3 separate regions of the Homo sapiens genome follow, and all the other regions are linked to region 2. Evidence: fine-mapped expression QTL. A gene starts in region 2. Each other region holds a variant in brackets. All regions are shown on one strand. Distances are between the middles of the regions.

Region 1 (6,642 bases), 23 kb before region 2:
ACACCACTGCACTCTAGCCTGGGCAACAGAGTGAGACTCTGTTGGGCAAACGGAGAGAAATCAGTCACCCTAGTCCAACTAGTCCCTGACCCAGACTTGGAAGGAGAGGGTAGATTTCAAAAGACAAAGATATATTCATTCATTTTTTGAGATAAGGTCTCACTCTGTTACCCAGACAAGAGTGCAGTGGTGCAATCATAGCTCACCGCAGCCTTGAACTTCTCAAGGGATACTCTTGCCTCAGTCTCCCAAGTAGTCAGGATTCAGGTGTGCACCACCCCACCCAGCCACAAAACAAAGACCAAAAAAAGCAACATTTCAGCCCTGGGTAGTGGCTCATGCCTGTAATCCAGTGCTTTGGAAGGCCAAGGTGGGTGGGTCGCCTGAGGTCAGGAGTTCAAGACCAGCCTGGCCAACATGGCGAAACCTTGTCTCTACCAAAAAATAGATAAAAATTAGCCAGGTGTGGTGGTACTTGCCTGTAATCCCAGCTACTCGGGAGATTGCGGCAGGAGAATTGCTTGAACCAGAGAGGCAGAGGCTGCAGTGAGCCAAGATTGCGCCGCTGTACTCCAGCCTGAGAGAGAGCATGAGACTCCATCTCAAAAAAAAAAAAAAAAAAAAAAGAAAGTAAAGGAATGAAAGAATGGCTACTTCATAGGCACAGCAGTAGCATGGGCTGCTGATTGGCTATTTTTATGGTTATTTCTTTCTCCAGCCTGGGCGACAGATCAACACTCTGTCTCAAAAAGGAAAAAAAGAAAAAAAAAGTTACCTTGCCACATATTGAAATGGCCCCAGGAGCCTCCTCCTTTCTCCCCCTCCCCTCAACCCATTACGAAAAAAAAAAAAAACGGCCCTACAAAGGCTTCTTTTGTGGGGGAAAATTTGCATTGTAAAGAATTTCTATGAATATAACTAGATTTTTCATCTTCCAGGCTCTCCAAATCCTGGTGAGATTAACTGAGAATCTAGCATCCTGTAAAGGTCTAAATAGAAAACATTAAAAAAAAATTATAGAGATGGGGTCTCACTCTGTTGCCCTGGCTGGTCTTGAAGTCCTGGGCTCAAGTGATCCTCTTGCCTTGGCCTCCCGAAGTGCTAGGACTACAGGCATGAGTTACCATGCCCGCCCAACAAATAGGAAACATTTGTCCTCTATTGTCTCAAAGGGCAGCCACCTATGAGACTTCATCTACTTCATACAAACCTTGGTCTCCATAGCCCCTTATTGTAACCCAGACACTCCTTTCTTTTGATTCTAGATCTCTAGATAGTAACTTAACTTTCAGCCAATTGCCAATCAGAAAATCTTTGAAACCACTTGTTACCTGTAAATACCCTCGCTTACTTTGAGTTGGTCCACCTTTCTGGACTGAACCGATACACCTCACATGTATTCATTGATATCTTATGTCCTCCTAAAATGTATAAAACCAACCTCAAAGGGCGGGTGCGGTGGTTTATGCCTGTAATCCCAGTACTCTGGGAGGCGGAGGTAGACAGATCACCTGAGGTCAGGAGTTTGAGACCAGCCTGGCCAACATGGTGAAACCCTGTCTCTACAAAAAATAAAAAATTAGGCCAGGCGCAGTGGCTCACACCTGTAATACCAGCACTTTGGGAGGCCAAGGTGGGTGGATTGCCTGAGGTCAGGAGTTTGAGACCAGCCTGACCAATATTGTGAAATCCTGTCTCTACTAAAAATACAAAACTTAGCCGGGCATGGTGGCGTGCACGTGTAGTCCCAGCTACTCGGGAGGCTAAGGCAGAAGAATTGCTTGAACCCAGGAGGCAGAGGTTACAATGAGCCGAGATCGCACCACTGCACTCCAGCCTGGATGACAGAGGGACACTCTGTCTCAAAATAAAAAAATAAAATAATAATAAAATTAATTAATTAAAAAATTAGCTGGGTGTGGTAGTGCACACCTGCAGTCTCAGCTACTCCAGAGGCTGAGACGGGAGGATTGCTTGAGCCCGGGAGGTGGAGGTTGCAGTGAGCTGAGATTATGCTACTGCTCTCCAGCCTGGATGACAGAGCAAGACCCTGCCCCCCACCCATCCCCCCAAAAAAAGTCTTCTGCTAGCCATCATCACTCATATTTGGCTCAGAATAAACCTCTTTAAATATTTTGCAGTTCAGCTTTTTCAACACCTCCAATTTGAACTTGTCTGATTGTATCCACAGGTTTAGATTCAGGTTGAATATTTTTGGCAAAAATACTATAAAAGTGATATTGTGTGTGTCCTTCTTGGGGAATGATTTTTATTATACTACGTTTTAATAAATTTACTTTTAGCCGGGCATGGTGGCTCACGCCTGTATCCCAGCACTTTGGGAGGCCGAGGCAGGTGGATCACCTGAGGTCAGTTGTTCCAGACCAGCCTGGGCAACATGGTGAAACCCCATCTCTACTAAAAATACAAAAAATTAGCCAGGTGCGGTGGTCGGTGCCTGTAATACCAGCTACTTGGGAGGCTGAGGCAGGAGAATCGCTTGAACTGGGGAGGCAGAGGTTGCGGTGAGCTGAGATCACGCCATTGCACTGCAGCCTGGGCAGCAAGAGTGAAACTCCATCTCCAAAAAATATATATTTTTTATTTATTTACTTTTCATTTATTTAAGAGGGGTATAACATCACATGGAATCTTTGTCCAGTGGCCTTAGCAGGAAGATTGTTTCAGAATTTGGCATGAACTATGCCCATAATTCCATGGGTCTGAGTTACCTTTCCTCACATCACTCTGGTTTTGTTCAGTTTGCTGCCGGGAGTCACTGTCCTGTTCTTTGCTTTGTATGCATAAGCGCATCTCTTGCCCAAATAGGATTCAGTTTCATCTCAGGCATAAATGCCTTCAATGTTAAGAAGAGCTGTGTACTCCCTTTGGTTCAAGAGACCCTGCTTATAGCCAGCAAAAGTGGCCTTGGGTCCAGGCCCAGTGGTTCATGCTTGTAATCTCAGCACTTTGGGAGGCCTAGGCAGGAGGATCACCCGAGGCCAGTAATTCAAGACCAGGCTGGTCAACATAGTGAGACCGTGTCTCTACAATAAAAAGAAAATAAAGCCAAGTGCAGTGGCTCACGCCTGTAATCCCAGCACTTTGGGAGGCCGAGGCGGGTGTATCACCTGAGGTCAGGAGTTTGAGACCAGCCTGACCAACATAGTGAAACCCCGTCTCTACTAAAAATACAAAATTAGCTGGGTGTGGTGTCACATGTCTGTAATCCCAGCTACTCGGGAGGCTGAGGCAGGAGACTCACTTGAACACAGGAGGCGGAGGTTGCAGTAAGCCGAGATTGTGCCATTGCACTCCAGCCTGGGTGACAGAGTGAAAGTCCGTGT[C/CA]AAAAAAAAAAAAAAAGAAAAAAAAGTAAAAGGAAAAAAGGAAAAATGGCCTTAGACCACAGCCTTCCAGACATATCTGCCTTTTAGAAGTCCTGTCCTGGTTGGGCAGGGTGTCTCATGTCAGTGATCCCAGCACTTTGATAGGCCAAGGCGAGAAGATCCCTTGAGCCTAGGATTTAGAGACCAGCCTGGGTCTCTAAATATAACATAAGGAGATCCCATCTCTACAAAACACTAAAAAAAGTTAGCTAGGTGTGGTGGCATGCACCTGTGTTCTCAGCTACTGAGGAGGCTGAGGTTAGAGGATCACTTGATCCTGGGATGCTCTAGGTTACAGTGAGCTATGATCGCACCACTGCACTCCAGCCCGTGCGATGGAGTGAGACCTTGTTTCAAAAGAAAAAAAAAAAAGGCCCTGTCAAGCAGACAGGCTCCAAGATGGTAGAAAGAGAAAGGCCTTAGGGAATGATTTTTAAATTTACGGCAGCTGAGAGTCTAACTTCTTAGAGGGGGAAAATTGTGAAATACTAAAATGTGAAGGTGAAATCCCTTGCCCAAGGTCATATGTGCCTTTTAGTTGGTGACCCCAGACTCTAATCCTGGTCTCCTTGTCTGTCTGTACCTATGTGTTCTTCTGTCTTCTCTGTTCTTAGAAACAAACTTTTTCCTCCCCCCACCTACAGCATGCCTTCTGTGGTCAGAATTCTGCTTTAAAAAGCCTTTTTCCCTTATTACTTTTGCACACAACTCAGTTCTCTCCAACAAGGCCTGAACTGCCATTGTTTGCTTCAAACTTCCTTGCATCCAATCCTTCCTCTTTTCAAGATAAGGCCTGTTTTTCCCAGGGCTCTGGGGAACCACACCTAGAAGAGGCTGTTCCAGACAAGTCTAGCATTGCTTCCCTTTTTCTGATAAGGTTCCATTGTTGAGAACACTCCCTTTGTTTCTTACCTGTCTCCAAAACATTCTGGAATTTACTTCTATTTTAGTTTGCTGATGTGGCCATTACTGTTAAGTGGTGGTTAATTATCTTTGTATTCTACATTCTTTTTTTTTTTTTTTTTGAGACGAGTCTCACTCTGTTGTCCAGGCTGGAGTGCAGTGGTGCGATCTCGGCTCACTGCAACCTCTGGCTCCTGGGTTCAAGTAATGCTCCTGCCTCAGCCTCCCAAGTAGCTGGGACTACAGACGTGTGCCACCATGCCCAGCTAATGTTTTGTATTTTTAGTAGAGACGGGGTTTCACCATGTTAGCCAGGATGGTCTTGATCTCCTGACCTTGTGATCCACCCGCCTCCCAAAATGCTGGGATTACAGCCGTGACCCGCAGTGCCAGCGAGAATTCGTATTTCTAACCTAACCTAATCTAATCTAATCAAGTGATTCTGGCCCACAGATAACACTTAGAGAATCACTGGGAGCTGGGTGTTGTGATTTGTGTCTGTAATCCCAGCACTTTGGGAGGCCAAGGCAGGAGGATCCCTTGAGGCCAGAAGTTGGAGACCAGCCTGGACAACACAGCAAGACCTCATCTCTACTAAAAATTTAAAAAGTAGCCAGGCATGGTAGCATGCACCTGTAGTCTTAACTACTTGAGAGGCTGAGGCAGGACGATGGCTTGAGCCCAGGAATTTGGCTGCAGTGAGCTATAATCACACCACTGCGCTTCAGCCTGGGCAACAACAGAGGGAGACCCTGTATGTTAAAAGAAAACAAAACAAAAAAATCATTGGCTTAAACTGACATTTATATAATGTCAAACTGATTAGGCTGGGTGCAGTGGCTCACACCTTGAGCTTTGGAAGGCTGAAGCTGGCAGATTGCTTGAGCTCAGGAGTTCAGGACCAGCCTGGGCAACATGGTGAAACCCCATCATAAAAAGAAAGAAAGAAAGAAAGAAAGAAATACAAATTCTCAGCTCTTCTTCCTTCCTTTCCTTCCTTCCCTCCTTTCTTCCTTCCTTCCTCCTTCTTTCCTTTCTTCCTCCTTCCTTTCTTCCTTCCCTCCTTCCTTCTTTCTCTCTTTCCTTCCTTCCCTCCCTCCCCTCCTCTCTCTCTCTTTCTCTTTCTTCCTTCCTTCCTTCCTTCCTTCCTTCCTTCCTTCCTTTCTTTCTTTCTTTTTCTTTCTTTCTTTCTTTCCTTCTTTGCCTTCCTTCCTTCCTTCTTTCCTTCCTTCCTTCCTTCCTTTCTTCTTTTCCTTTCTTTCCTTTATTTCCTTTATTTTTCTATTGACAGGATCTTGCGCTGTCACTCAGGCTGGAGTGCAGTGGTGCAATCTCACTGCAGGTTGCTCACTGCAACCTTCTCCCCCAGGCTCAAGCAATCCTCCCACCTCAGCCTCCCGAGTAGCTGGGACTACAGGTGTGCACCACCATGCTGGCTATTTTTTGGTATTTTTAGTAGAGATGGAGTCTCATTATGTTGCCCAGGCTGGTCTTGAATTTCTGAGCTCAAGCGATCCGCCTGCCTTGTCCTCCAAAAGTGCTAGGATTACAGGTATGAGCCACCATGCCTGGCCAAAACCCCGTCTCTACAAAAAATACAAAAGTAGCCAGGTTTGGTGGTGTGCGCCAGTAGTCCCGGCTACTTAGGAGGCTGAGGTGGGAGGATAGATTGAGCCAGAGAGATCGAGGCTGCAGTGAGCCATTATCCCACCACTGTACTCCAGCCTGGGTGACACAGTGAGACGAGACTGTCTCAAAAAACAAAAACAAACAAACTGATTATATTGAAGTATCATAAAGCAAGTTATAGACATGAAGTCACCCACAAAACCTAAAAATGTCCACTTCCCAGGGGTTCAATTCTCTACTTTCTCTTGCTGTCCACATCTAATCTGTTTTGAAGTTTTTCTTGTCTAGCTTCAACATATACCCTGAACCCCCATCCTTTCTCCTACATCGTCTTAGCCCAAGCTCATATCCCCTCTCGCCTAGAATACCGCAGCCACTTCTCATCTGGTATCCTCTCCCAGTCTTGACCCAACTCCCCACACAGTCACAGGGGTTATCGTTGGAAAATGCAAGTCAGATCATATCACTCTGTTAAAAACACATCCAGTGGCTACTGCAATTAGAATAAACGGCAAACTTCTTTTATGACTGACAAGAACCTGCATGCCCAGACCCTGCCTGTCTGTCTGGCATTCTCGTTGCTTCTTGAGCCTTGTTTATCACGCTCAGGTTTACTGGCGTCTTCCTCTTTCTGCACATATCAAACTCTTGGTACTTGTAATTGTCTGGATTGTACCCCACTCCCAGCCTGAATTCTGTGCTTGACAAAAGGCTACCTTTTCTA
Region 2 (6,642 bases):
CTGTCACCCAGGTTGGAGTGCACTGGCACAATTACGGCTCACTGCAGCCTCGAACTTCCGGGCTCAAGCAATCCTCTCACCTCAGCTTTCTGAGTAGCTAGGACTAGAAGCGTGGGCCACCACACCCAACTAGGGTCTGAGTTTTATCCCAAATGCAATGGGATGCCATTCGAAGCTGTTTAGGTTGGAAGTTTTTTGTTTTGTTTTGTTTTGTTTTGTTTTTGAGATGGAGTTACGCTCTTGTTGCCCTGGCTGGAGTGCAGTGGCATGATCTTGGCTTACTGCAACCTCTGCCTCCTGGGTTCAAGAGATTCTCCTGCTTCAGCCTCCCAAGTTGCTAGGACTACAGGTGTGTGCCACCATGCCCAGCTAATTTTGTATTTTTAGTAGAGACAGGGTTTCACTATATTGGTCAGGCTGGCCTCAAAACCCTGACCTCAAGTGATCTGCCTGCTTTGCCCTCCCAAAGTGCTGGAATTACAGGCGTGAGCCACCGTACCCGGCCTAGGTTGGAAGTAACATGATTTAATACATGATTTTTCAAGGATCCCTCTGGCTACTGTATTGGGAGTGCCCTGTAGAGGATGAAAGGGAGAGAAGCAAGGAGAGTAGCTAGGAGACAGGTGCAGTTGCTGAGGTGAAAGGCCATACACGTGTGAGCATTTCATCTCTGGGTTCTCAGCATCTAACGCAGTATTTTATTTTATTATTTTTATTTTATATATATATATATTTGAAATGGAGTCTCACTCTGTCGCCCAGGCTGGAGTGCAGTGGTGCAAGCATGGCTCACTGCAGCCTTGACCTCCCCTACTCAGGCAATCCTCCCACCTCAGCCTCCTGAGTACTTGGGAATACAAGCAGGCGCCACCACACCAAGCTAATTTTAAAATTTTTTGTAGAGACTGGGTATCTGCTTTGTTGCCAAGGCTGGTCTTGAACTCCTGGGCTCAAGCAATCTCTCGGCCTTCCAAAGTGTTGGGATTACAGGCCTGAGCCACTGTGCCCTGGTGGAAATATATATATATATATTTTTTTGAGACAGAGTTTCGCTCTTGTGGCCCAGGCTGGAGTGCAGTGGCGCGATCTCGGCTCACTGCAACCTCTGCCTCCCGGGTTCAAGTGATTCTCCTGCCTCAGCCTCCCGAGTAGCCAGGATTATAGGCGCCTGCCACCATGCCCAGCTAATCTTTTGTATTTTTAGTAGAGACGGGGTTTCGCCATGTTGGGCAGGCTGGTCTGGAACTTCTGACCTCAGGTGATCTGCCCACCTTGGCCTCCCAAAGTGTTGGGATTACAGGTGTGAGCCACCGTGCCCGGCCCAGAAATGAGATATTTAATTTTTTAATTTTTACTTTTTTTTTTTTTGAGACGGAGTTTCACTCTTGTTGCCCAGGTTGGAGTGCAATGGTGCCATCTCGGCTCACCGCAACCTCTGCCCCCAGGTTCAAGTGATTCTCCTGCCTCAGCCTCCTGAGTAGCTCGGATTACAGGCATGTGCTACCATGCCCAGCTAATTATGTATTTTTAGTAGTGACGGGGTTTCTCCATATTGGTCAGGCTGGTCTTGAACTCCCGACCTCAGGTGATCTGCCTGCCTTGGCCTCCCAAAGTGCTGGGATTACATTCGTGAGTCACCGCGCCCAGCCAAAATGAGATATTTTAAATAACATAAGTAAACAGAAATATATCATGATTTTAATGATAATTCATGCTCTGAAAATAAATGAAGAAAGGAATAGGAGTAGGGAAAGCTGGGATCAGAGTGGGCAGGAAGTTAAAATAGAGCAGTTAGGGAAAGCCTCACTGAATAAGTGACATTTGGACAATGACCATGGGGAGATTAGGGAATGGGTTATTTGAATTTTCTGGGAAAATACTGTTCTAGGCAGAGGAAATAGCAAGTGCACGATCTTTAAGGCCAGAGTGTGCTAAGCACGTTGGAGAGGCCGAGTCCATTGTAGCTGAGTTACAGAAGTGAGTGGAAGAGAAGAAGGTGATGAGTTTAGAGAGGGAAGGGCAGGGCAAGAGACGGGCTGTATGGGGCTTTGCAGGTTACTGCAAGAATTTTGCAGGAGGGACAGAGACTGACTTGGTTCTTACCAGGATTCCTCTGGCTGCTGTGTTGAGTATAGACTCTAAGAGGAAAGAGTGGAAGCAGGCAGAACACTGAGGAGGCTGTTGCAGTGGTCCAGGTGGGAAATGATGGTGCTGACCGTGGAGGTGGTAAGTGGTCAGATTATTCTATTTTATTTACACTCAACACATCTAATACTGACTCAATATTATCTAACATACAGTCCACATTGAAATTGCCCCCCAAATTCTTTTTACATAAAAAAATCATCCTGAATCCAATCAAGTCTCACCTATTGCTTTTGGTTTTCACCTCTTTCATGCTGTCATATTTTAAAAGACTCCAGGCTAGATGTTGTGTAGAATGTCCCACATTCTGAATTCGTTTATTTTTTCAAGTAAGCTTTTTGTGTGTATGTGGCAAGAATACGACAGAGGTAGCAATATGCTTTCCCCACTGCATCATATTAGGAGACACATAACAACAGTCCTGACCCATTATTGGTGGTGCTAAGTTCGATCACTTGGTAAGGGGGTGCCTGCCAGATCTTTCCATTGTAAAGCAAGCTGTTCTTTATTGTAAGTCATAAATACGCTGTGGGATGATACTTCGGGACTAAATATACCCTGAATATACTGCTGCCCAACAACATTTCACCCAGTGACTTTAGCAGCTAAGGAACAGCCTCGTGGCTTCCGACCTTGTGCCTCAGTTCGCTCATCTGAAAAATGAGGATGATCATGGTCCCTACCGGATGCTTGTTTTGAGGATCCGTGCTTGGCATACCAGAAACGCTCCACAAATGTTAGGTATTACTGGACGAAGGCAAATATGAAAAAAATTAAGGGCAGGGCTAGGACTGCATTCCGGTTCTCCGGATCCCGAGGGAGCTCCCAGTCGATGCTGGGCGAAAGCGGCCGCACGAGCCCACGTCGCCACGCCCTCCGCCGCGGAAGCCAGGGTGGGGGTCGCTGGAACCCTAGGCCGGCCGCGCAAGGCCCCCTGGGACCGGTAGTGCTGGGCGTGGCCTCGGGACTACATATCCCAGTGGCCCCCGTGCGGCGACTTTAGCTGCTGCTGTCTCAGCCGCTCCACAGCGACGGCAGCGGCTGCGGCTTAGTCGGTGGCGGCCGGCGGCGGCTGCGGGCTGAGCGGCGAGTTTCCGATTTAAAGCTGAGCTGCGAGGAAAATGGCGGCGGGAGGTGAGTGGAGATAAAGGAGGAGGCGGTGGCGGGCGAGGGGGTGGAGTGCGAGGCGGAGGGAAGAGGGGCGAGTTCCCCAGGCTGCGAGAGCCAGCGGCTTCAGATCTGCCAAGGCACTGAGGGGCGCGCCGGCCGGGGGACGCGCTGAGGTAGTTTCGGGGTGTCGGGGCCGCGCCGCTTCCCCTCAGCCCGGGGGGCGGCCCGCGGCGGTAGGAGCTGAGACGAAGCTGGGTGGCAGTCCGCTTGGGGATCCGAGGGGGTCCCCGCGCGGAGGGGTCACCCGAGGAGTTTGCGGGGGGACTGCAGGGGCCCACTTTCCCCTTCTGTCCCTAAAGTTTTTTCTTCCTCTTGCCTCCCCCAGCCCTTTTGAAAGCTCCCCGCGTCGTCCTCCTGCTGCCCCGGCTCCTTAGCAGCTTCTGGGACGCACGGGAGGGAAAAGCCGCGGGGACCCCCCCCACCCCAGCCTCCCAGCCGGGTGAGATTTGGTTGCTGTGTTTCCTCCTCACTTGGGCATTTAAAAAATATTTTAACACGAATTGTCCGCGGAATTTTCATGTTGGGCTCGGGTAGCTTCTTAGTTTTCTCGGTAAAAAGGCGTTTTACTACCTCTGGTGTGAAGGCTGGGAAATGGCAAGTGGGAAGTTGGTTGATAAAATTAGGAGTTTGGCTGTCTTTATTACTACTTTTTTTTTTTTTTTGCTCTCCCCATCTCTCATTTTATGAACATCGACCCAGTTCGTCATGGTTTAAATAAACTGCTTGTCTTGTACCTGCCTTAACAAAACTAGCCATGGGTCGTTGGGAGACTTAGTTGCTTCCTAGGCAGTTTGAGGGCATCTAGGGTGGAAAAGTTAACCGAGAGAGCGAGCATCTACCTCACTGGCAGGATCTGGGATTCCCAAATGGAATGACACGGAAGCTATGAGATTCTCTCGAAGTCGAAACTTTTTTCCCCCTCCCGAATGCGAAGACTTCCTTTTTGCAATATTTGAGCAGGGCTTCAAAACCAACCTGTTTTTGTTATTAAGCCTGTACGGTAAAGAAACAGGAAGGAGAGTACCAGCTGTCTTGCTGCAGTGGTTTTAAATGGAGTTGAATGAGATGCGTGAGAGTGGTAGTAGTATTGAGTAAGATTGCTGCATCTCTTTGATTTAAATGCCTGGCCTCGGATCCACCTAACTGATCCCTGGCTGCAAAAAAGCTTCAGTATTTGTTGCAGCAGGTTGTTGAGAAGGTGATTGGAGGAATAAAAATCTTAGGTCTTCAGCGAATGCTGCACAAACGAAAATGTTAATGGAAACCTGTAAGTTTGTGAATTGTTTGTTCTTGAAAATATTTTAAATGTATGCTCATTTAGAATATGGTTCTACCGAATGATATCCAATTGGAAAGGTACAAACACATTGAAAAGTGAATCTCTCTTTCACGCCAAACCCTACAGTTTCCCCTTCTCAGAGGCAAAGACTGTTACTGGTTTTTAGAATATCCTTGGTCTTTGGAATAATTATTTTAAGATTTTCATTTGAAACCACTTCTGTTGGATACCAAAAGCAGGGAAATAAAATGAACAGAAGAAACAGAAAATGTGGGAATACTGTTTTTGCTCTCTTAAAAAAAATGTTGATAGCTATTGGAAAAAGCTCTTCAGAACTTACTGCTTATGTCACCTTATCTATTAATACCGTTAAATAACAATCTGTGGGGCTTTAGGATAAAGAACTCTGCCAGGGTTCATTGTTTGTATGTACAATGAATCCTCTGCTTGTAACATGTAAAATGATATTGAACACTATAGCTCCTGTCACTAGAGGTTGCTTCAGGTTCTGCATTTCAATGAGCAGAAATCTAAATTGCCTGTGATCCTAAATTATAGGGGCATTTTATGTATAGATGGAAATGACTTAATTGTCCAATCAGCATTTGAAATAAGAGGCATATACCAGCTTTTGGCATATAGAAGATGGGGATTGTGGACTAAGCGGGAGGCTGTAATATTTCTAGAGCAGTTATAGGAAATATTTCTGCCATAAGATATTTAATTACAAAGGCTTTGAAAATGTACAACTTAAGCATCAATAGCGAGATTTATATTTTTATATTTTAGAATGGTTGTTTTAACAGCTTGCCAACACTAACAATTTGCTAAGGAAATTCAGTGATATTAGAGCTAGGTTATTAAAGATTATATTAAATAATTTAACTGTATTTTGAAAATGATTATGCTGTGCATTTCCTTCTCTGTATAAAAATTATTTCTAAAAAGTGCCACGCACCTCCCGAGCAAATAAAATAGAATTCAGTAAGGAGTGAAGTACTGTTGTACGTGAGACCCTTTTTCTAGGCGATATGCAAATAAAAAGTAGTTTAAAAATGGTTGCTTACTAATGTCTTCTTGACTGGTCTTTTGAAATAAGCTTTCTTGCAGGGACATTACATTAAAGATAAAAGCTAAGTGTGTCTTTTTTTTTTTTTTTTTTTTTTTTTAACGAATTCAGTTCTTTCTGCCGGGCTGCAGTGGCTCAGGCCTGTAATCCCAGCACTTTGGGAAGCCAAGGCTGGTGGATCACGAGGTCAGGAGTTTGAGAACAGCCTGGCAAAGATGGTGAAACCCCTTCACTACTAAAAATACAAAAAATTAGCCGGGCGTGGTGGCGAGCACCTGTAGTTCCAGCTACTCAGGAGGTTGAGGCAGAAGAATGGCTTGAACCCGGGAGGCGGAGGTTGCAGTGAGCCGAGATTGCACCACTGCACTCCAGCCTGGGCAACAGAATGAGACTCTGTTTCAAAAAAAAAAAAAATTCTGTCTTGTGCATTAGCAGTATGATTCTGGAATAATTCATTTTAACTTGGAGTACTGTAATTGAAAAGTCTTTAAAAGAAAATTAAAAAATAAATTTTAGTTTGGACAATAGGGTAAGATTTAAAAACTCTGCTATTGTCCTATCCCAAATTGATGGTTAAAATAAATGGCTTTGGGTTTTTGGTTTTTTTTTTTTTTTTTTTTTTTTTTGCGGGCAGGGGCGTTTTTTTTTTTTCTTTTCTTTCTTTTTTTTTTTTTTTGAGAAGGAAATTTGCTCTGTTGCCCAGGCTGGAGTGCAGCGGCGCGATCTTGGCTCACTGCAACCTCTGCCTCCTGGGTTCAAGCAATTCTCCTGTGTCAGCCTCCCAAGTAGCTGGGATTACAGGTGCGCACCACCACGCCCGGCTATTTTTGTATTTTTAGTAGAGACAAAGTTTACCATGTTGGCCAGGCTGGTCTCGAACTCCCAACCTCAGGTAATCCACCTGCCTTGGCCTCCCAAAGTGCTGGGATTACAGGTGTGAGCCATCACGCCAGCCTGCATTTTTTAAAAACTATATAAT
Region 3 (6,446 bases), 150 kb after region 2:
ATTGGTTCCCTTTGTGATCAGTTGCTGTACTGTGAGAACAGCTATCACTTGGCTGTTTAGGAATTTAATAAATCTGTAAATGTTCCTCTGTTCCTGGATTATGAAACAACATGCACACTGGGTAAAATTCTGAAATTATAAAGAAGAAAATAAAGAATACATAATCCTGTTCTCAGTGATAGCCTCTGAGATGACCTGTTTCTTGTAGTAGGAGGGGATATTAAAATTCCCTTCTACTTCCAGCCAGTGGTGGAGACAGTATTGAGGGGTTTTTTTAATGTGCATGAGGCAGATGACCACACAGCAATCCTCTATTGTGATTTGAAATATCGTTTATAATTGTTTTTTAAAAAGCAACTGTGAAATGCTCGATTTTTATTGTCTTATGCCTACTTGGAAGTACTGATATTTACATTTTCTTGATAATAAAACATCTTGTGGAAGCTGAGCTAGAATGTCCTACAGAAAGATGATAAAAGCTTGCTTTTTGGAGATGACCCGTAGCTAGTAGAGCTGAAATCAGCTTCCTTGTTGTACTTCAGTTATGTCACCTTCTGAACCTCCAGATAGCTTCTGCTTGCCCCTTACCTCTTTCTGAAAGTTTAAAGAAAGTTCAAGATTTTCTGAGGTGGACCCCTGCTTATCTGAGTATAACCCCATCTTATTTTTTTTGGCTTCATGTTTCAGCCCTCCACCACCCCAACACACTGAATCCTCATTTTCCTGTAATTGTCTTTCATAGTTCCTGAAAAATTTGTCCTCAGATTCCACCCCTAAATGTTTTCTTACTTTGTGGAATGTTTCTAGTCATGTTAAAGCTTGACAGTGTGTTGTCTTTTGTCTTTTAACCCCAAATAATTTTCAGGTCCCTCTTCTTCAGTTCTCCCTCCCTCCCCTTGCAATAGCCAGAAAGCTTTTTTTTTTTTTTTTTGAGAGTCACTGTTGCCCAGGCTGGAGTACAGTGGCACGATCTCGGCTCACTGCAGCGTCAATTCCCTGGGTTTAAGGGATTTTCCTGCCTCAGCCTCCTGAGTAGCTGGGATTACAGGTGCTCATCACCAAGGCTGGCTAGTTTTGGTATTTTTAGTAGAGACAGGGTTTCACCATTTTGGCCAGGCTGGTCTCGAACTCCTGACCTCAAGTGATCCGCCCACCTTGGCCTCCCAAAGTGCTGGGATTACAGGCGTAAGCCACTGCACCAGGTCAGAAAGCTTTTATGTGAAGAATTGTATGTTTTGGCCGGCACAGTGGCTCACACCTGTAATTTAAGCACTTCGGGAGGCCGAGGTGGGCGGATCACCTGAGGTTAGGAGTTTGAGACCAGCCTGGCTAACATGGTGAAGCACTATCTCTACTAAAAATACAAAAATTAGCCAGAGTGGTGGTGCACGCCTGTAATCCCAGCTACTTGGGAGGCTGAGGCAGAAGACTCACTTGAACCTGGGAGACGAAGGTTGCTGTGAGGCGAGATTGTGCCACTGCGCTCCAGCCTGGGCGACAGAGTGAGACCCTGTTAAAAAAAAGAAGGCCCTGGGTGTTTTCTGTCTTATACCTGGTGTATTGTGGGGGTACTATATGTATGCAACTGGCAGGTTCTTGCTATATATATGTAATTGCACTCTTTCTTGGGTATTAGCAGGGTTTTCTTAATGCTCAAATGGTCGCCCAACGCAGCAGAGAGCTGCTAAGTCATCACTTCCGACAACAGAGGGTGGCTATGATGATGCAGCAGCAGCAGCAGCAGCAACAGCAGCAGCAGCAGCAGCAGCAGCAGCAACAGCAACAGCAACAGCAACAGCAGCAACAGCAGCAAACCCAGGCCTTCAGCCCACCTCCTAATGTGACTGCTTCCCCCAGCATGGATGGGCTTTTGGCAGGACCCACAATGCCACAAGCTCCTCCGCAACAGTTTCCATATCAACCAAATTATGGTAAATCTGACAATGAAAATGTGCCTTCCCCAAGTTAACATTACTAAGGACATAAGCTTCATTACATTTATTGCACATGAAAGACAAAAACACGATTCACTCCCTCTTTACTTCACAAGGAAAACCAAATTAATTTAAATGATTGGAAAACAAAAATGCTGCAGCACACAGGTAATTGAGACAGGTGTATCCTGTCATAGTTGAATATTTTTTTCAGTCCCACTCATTAAGAGTCCCCAAACTCTGGAAGAAACACTGCAAAGTTGTCCCCTTGCCCCTTCTTGTATGTTCCAGTATAGTAGAACTCTCTAATCTCTGAATGCTTGGTCAAGTCAGTGAGAGGAATGCACTTTGTGGGCTTTTAAGTTGATTTTCTTGGTGACTTGGATTTATTATTTTTTTTTTGAGATGGGGGTCTTGCTCTGTCACCCAGGTTGGAGTGCAGTGGTGCGATCTTGGCTCACTGCAACCTCTGCCTCCCGGGTTCAAGTGATT[C/T]TCCTGCCTCAGCCCTGAGTAGCTGGGACTACAGGTGCATTCCACCACCCCCGGCTGTTTTTTTTTTTAAATTTTTAATAGAGACGGGGTTTCACTGTGTTAGCCAGGATGGTCTCGATCTCCTGACCTCGTGATCTGCCTGCATCGGCCTCCCAAAGTGCTGGGATTACAGGCGTGAGTCACCGTGCCCGGCCCTGGATTTATTATTACAGTGATGCAGATACCTCTTCATTTCAGCCTTTGAGAGGTTCCAGGAACATGGTGGGAATAAAGGTGTCTATTGGGGAGCCCTGTCATCTGAGGATTATAACTCCCCTGCCCTTTAAAGAAGGATGGAGTGATGTGAGTTGAGTGATACGGAGTCCCTTTTCTACAGGAAACCCATTAAAGCAACTGATCTTTCAGTGATCCAGATGGTGCTCCTTTCTGTAGTAAGCCTGTTACTCTAGTCGTCATCTTGGTGAGAATCTAGAATACCTGGGGGGGCAGCATCTTATAGCACTCTGTATCTTACACTTATCACTTCCCTCCACCCCCACCTCCTTTAAAAAAAAAACAAAATTACTACAGAAATCTGATATTCTAAGGAGAAGGCATTTGGGCATTTTTATTTCTTCTGTTTTATTTTTGTAAGGAATGGGACAACAACCAGATCCAGCCTTTGGTCGAGTGTCTAGTCCTCCCAATGCAATGATGTCGTCAAGAATGGGTCCCTCCCAGAATCCCATGATGCAACACCCGCAGGCTGCATCCATCTATCAGTCCTCAGAAATGAAGGGCTGGCCATCAGGAAATTTGGCCAGGAACAGGTAAAGAACAGTGACTTATAAAGTTAGTCACATCCTAGTCCCAGAAGTCCAAGAACTTAATGTATTTTTCAGTCAAGCCTTTTTGGATGGAGAGGTTGAAAGGACTGGGTTCATATTAGAAGGTGTGATTTGGCTTGTCCATTTTGAGAGTCCTTCAAGCACGCACATATCTATTAGGGTGTCTAGTACAGAAAGCTGTGAAAAATGGATCACAGGCTGTCAGGGAGTTTTCTCTAACATTCCCAGCTTAAGTATAGCAATGTTTGACACAATTGTAGTAATTTCTGTGGGCATGCCCTTTGTCGCTAAAGTGACTTCCAGAGGTAATATTACCATTTGTTTACTTACAGCTCCTTTTCCCAGCAGCAGTTTGCCCACCAGGGGAATCCTGCAGTGTATAGTATGGTGCACATGAATGGCAGCAGTGGTCACATGGGACAGATGAACATGAACCCCATGCCCATGTCTGGCATGCCTATGGGTCCTGATCAGGTATGGGATCGATTCCTTACCTTTTTCAAAAAGTTTTTCTTGTTCTCTGGATAGAACTAAAGCCTAGGCTATAATCAGAATGTCCTAGGTATATTTTAACTTGAATGTATAACTTAAAATATAGTAATTGAAAAAACTTGGTTTGAAGGCATTGGGCCATTAGATACTTTTGGTAAGCCAGAGCTGCATTGTAAGATGGGATCTCAGGAACCTGAATCACTCAGCCAGAGCTGCACTGTAAGCCATGAATGTGGACATGGGTATTTTTTTGTTGTGCAAAGCATGTGTTTTACTCATTTTTTTTTTTTTTTTTTTTTTCCTGGTTGCTGACAGAAATACTGCTGACATCTCTGCACCAGGACCTCTTAAGGAAACCACTGTACAAATGACACTGCACTAGGATTATTGGGAAGGAATCATTGTTCCAGGCATCCATCTTGGAAGAAAGGACCAGCTTTGAGCTCCATCAAGGGTATTTTAAGTGATGTCATTTGAGCAGGACTGGATTTTAAGCCGAAGGGCAATATCTACGTGTTTTTCCCCCCTCCTTCTGCTGTGTATCATGGTGTTCAAAACAGAAATGTTTTTTGGCATTCCACCTCCTAGGGATATAATTCTGGAGACATGGAGTGTTACTGATCATAAAACTTTTGTGTCACTTTTTTCTGCCTTGCTAGCCAAAATCTCTTAAATACACGTAGGTGGGCCAGAGAACATTGGAAGAATCAAGAGAGATTAGAATATCTGGTTTCTCTAGTTGCAGTATTGGACAAAGAGCATAGTCCCAGCCTTCAGGTGTAGTAGTTCTGTGTTGACCCTTTGTCCAGTGGAATTGGTGATTCTGAATTGTCCTTTACTAATGGTGTTGAGTTGCTCTGTCCCTATTATTTGCCCTAGGCTTTCTCCTAATGAAGGTTTTCATTTGCCATTCATGTCCTGTAATACTTCACCTCCAGGAACTGTCATGGATGTCCAAATGGCTTTGCAGAAAGGAAATGAGATGACAGTATTTAATCGCAGCAGTAGCAAACTTTTCACATGCTAATGTGCAGCTGAGTGCACTTTATTTAAAAAGAATGGATAAATGCAATATTCTTGAGGTCTTGAGGGAATAGTGAAACACATTCCTGGTTTTTGCCTACACTTACGTGTTAGACAAGAACTATGATTTTTTTTTTTAAAGTACTGGTGTCACCCTTTGCCTATATGGTAGAGCAATAATGCTTTTTAAAAATAAACTTCTGAAAACCCAAGGCCAGGTACTGCATTCTGAATCAGAATCTCGCAGTGTTTCTGTGAATAGATTTTTTTGTAAATATGACCTTTAAGATATTGTATTATGTAAAATATGTATATACCTTTTTTTGTAGGTCACAACAACTCATTTTTACAGAGTTTGTGAAGCTAAATATTTAACATTGTTGATTTCAGTAAGCTGTGTGGTGAGGCTACCAGTGGAAGAGACATCCCTTGACTTTTGTGGCCTGGGGGAGGGGTAGTGCTCCACAGCTTTTCCTTCCCCACCCCCCAGCCTTAGATGCCTCGCTCTTTTCAATCTCTTAATCTAAATGCTTTTTAAAGAGATTATTTGTTTAGATGTAGGCATTTTAATTTTTTAAAAATTCCTCTACCAGAACTAAGCACTTTGTTAATTTGGGGGGAAAGAATAGATATGGGGAAATAAACTTAAAAAAAAATCAGGAATTTAAAAAAACGAGCAATTTGAAGAGAATCTTTTGGATTTTAAGCAGTCCGAAATAATAGCAATTCATGGGCTGTGTGTGTGTGTGTATGTGTGTGTGTGTGTGTGTATGTTTAATTATGTTACCTTTTCATCCCCTTTAGGAGCGTTTTCAGATTTTGGTTGCTAAGACCTGAATCCCATATTGAGATCTCGAGTAGAATCCTTGGTGTGGTTTCTGGTGTCTGCTCAGCTGTCCCCTCATTCTACTAATGTGATGCTTTCATTATGTCCCTGTGGATTAGAATAGTGTCAGTTATTTCTTAAGTAACTCAGTACCCAGAACAGCCAGTTTTACTGTGATTCAGAGCCACAGTCTAACTGAGCACCTTTTAAACCCCTCCCTCTTCTGCCCCCTACCACTTTTCTGCTGTTGCCTCTCTTTGACACCTGTTTTAGTCAGTTGGGAGGAAGGGAAAAATCAAGTTTAATTCCCTTTATCTGGGTTAATTCATTTGGTTCAAATAGTTGACGGAATTGGGTTTCTGAATGTCTGTGAATTTCAGAGGTCTCTGCTAGCCTTGGTATCATTTTCTAGCAATAACTGAGAGCCAGTTAATTTTAAGAATTTCACACATTTAGCCAATCTTTCTAGATGTCTCTGAAGGTAAGATCATTTAATATCTTTGATATGCTTACGAGTAAGTGAATCCTGATTATTTCCAGACCCACCACCAGAGTGGATCTTATTTTCAAAGCAGTATAGACAATTATGAGTTTGCCCTCTTTCCCCTACCAAGTTCAAAATATATCTAAGAAAGATTGTAAATCCGAAAACTTCCATTGTAGTGGCCTGTGCTTTTCAGATAGTATACTCTCCTGTTTGGAGACAGAGGAAGAACCAGGTCAGTCTGTCTCTTTTTCAGCTCAATTGTATCTGACCCTTCTTTAAGTTATGTGTGTGGGGAGAAATAGAATGGTGCTCTTATCTTTCTTGACTTTAAAAAAATTATTAAAAACAAAAAAAAAATAAATTTT

Alleles and levels. Positions count from the first base shown, and alleles are read on the strand shown. Sizes are in standard deviations (SD) of each study's normalised expression. Not every link is listed here.
As copies of CA replace C in region 1, the expression in monocytes after Pam3CSK4 of the gene that starts at base 3,147 in region 2 goes down (large effect, 1.0 SD a copy in Quach 2016).

The links. PIP is the estimated chance that this variant, and not a neighbour inherited with it, causes the effect.
Region 1: its variant is the best candidate, but not a certain one, in a credible set for the expression of NCOA3 in monocytes after Pam3CSK4 (Quach 2016, PIP 0.88).
Region 3: its variant is the best candidate, but not a certain one, in a credible set for the expression of NCOA3 in stomach (GTEx, PIP 0.63).

Annotation. Positions count from the first base shown.
Region 1 is chr20:47,475,590-47,482,231 of GRCh38, forward strand. It overlaps the pseudogene RPL35AP. Among named protein-coding and RNA genes, the nearest start is that of NCOA3, 23 kb to the right of the region's middle. RefSeq lists enhancers at 4,067-4,620, 4,621-5,173. The variant C/CA (reference allele first, on the strand shown) is at 3,348.
Region 2 is chr20:47,498,741-47,505,382 of GRCh38, forward strand. It overlaps NCOA3 (nuclear receptor coactivator 3), which reads left to right and starts at 3,147. Exons shown (of 23, transcript NM_181659.3): 1 at 3,147-3,279. RefSeq lists a cis regulatory region at 2,063-2,135 and a silencer at 3,387-3,506.
Region 3 is chr20:47,649,346-47,655,791 of GRCh38, forward strand. It overlaps NCOA3 (nuclear receptor coactivator 3), which reads left to right. Exons shown (of 23, transcript NM_181659.3): 20 at 1,637-1,931; 21 at 3,061-3,235; 22 at 3,586-3,727; 23 at 4,061-6,446. The coding sequence ends at 4,072. Among named protein-coding and RNA genes, the nearest start is that of SULF2, 130 kb to the right of the region's middle. RefSeq lists an enhancer at 1-243. The variant C/T (reference allele first, on the strand shown) is at 2,427.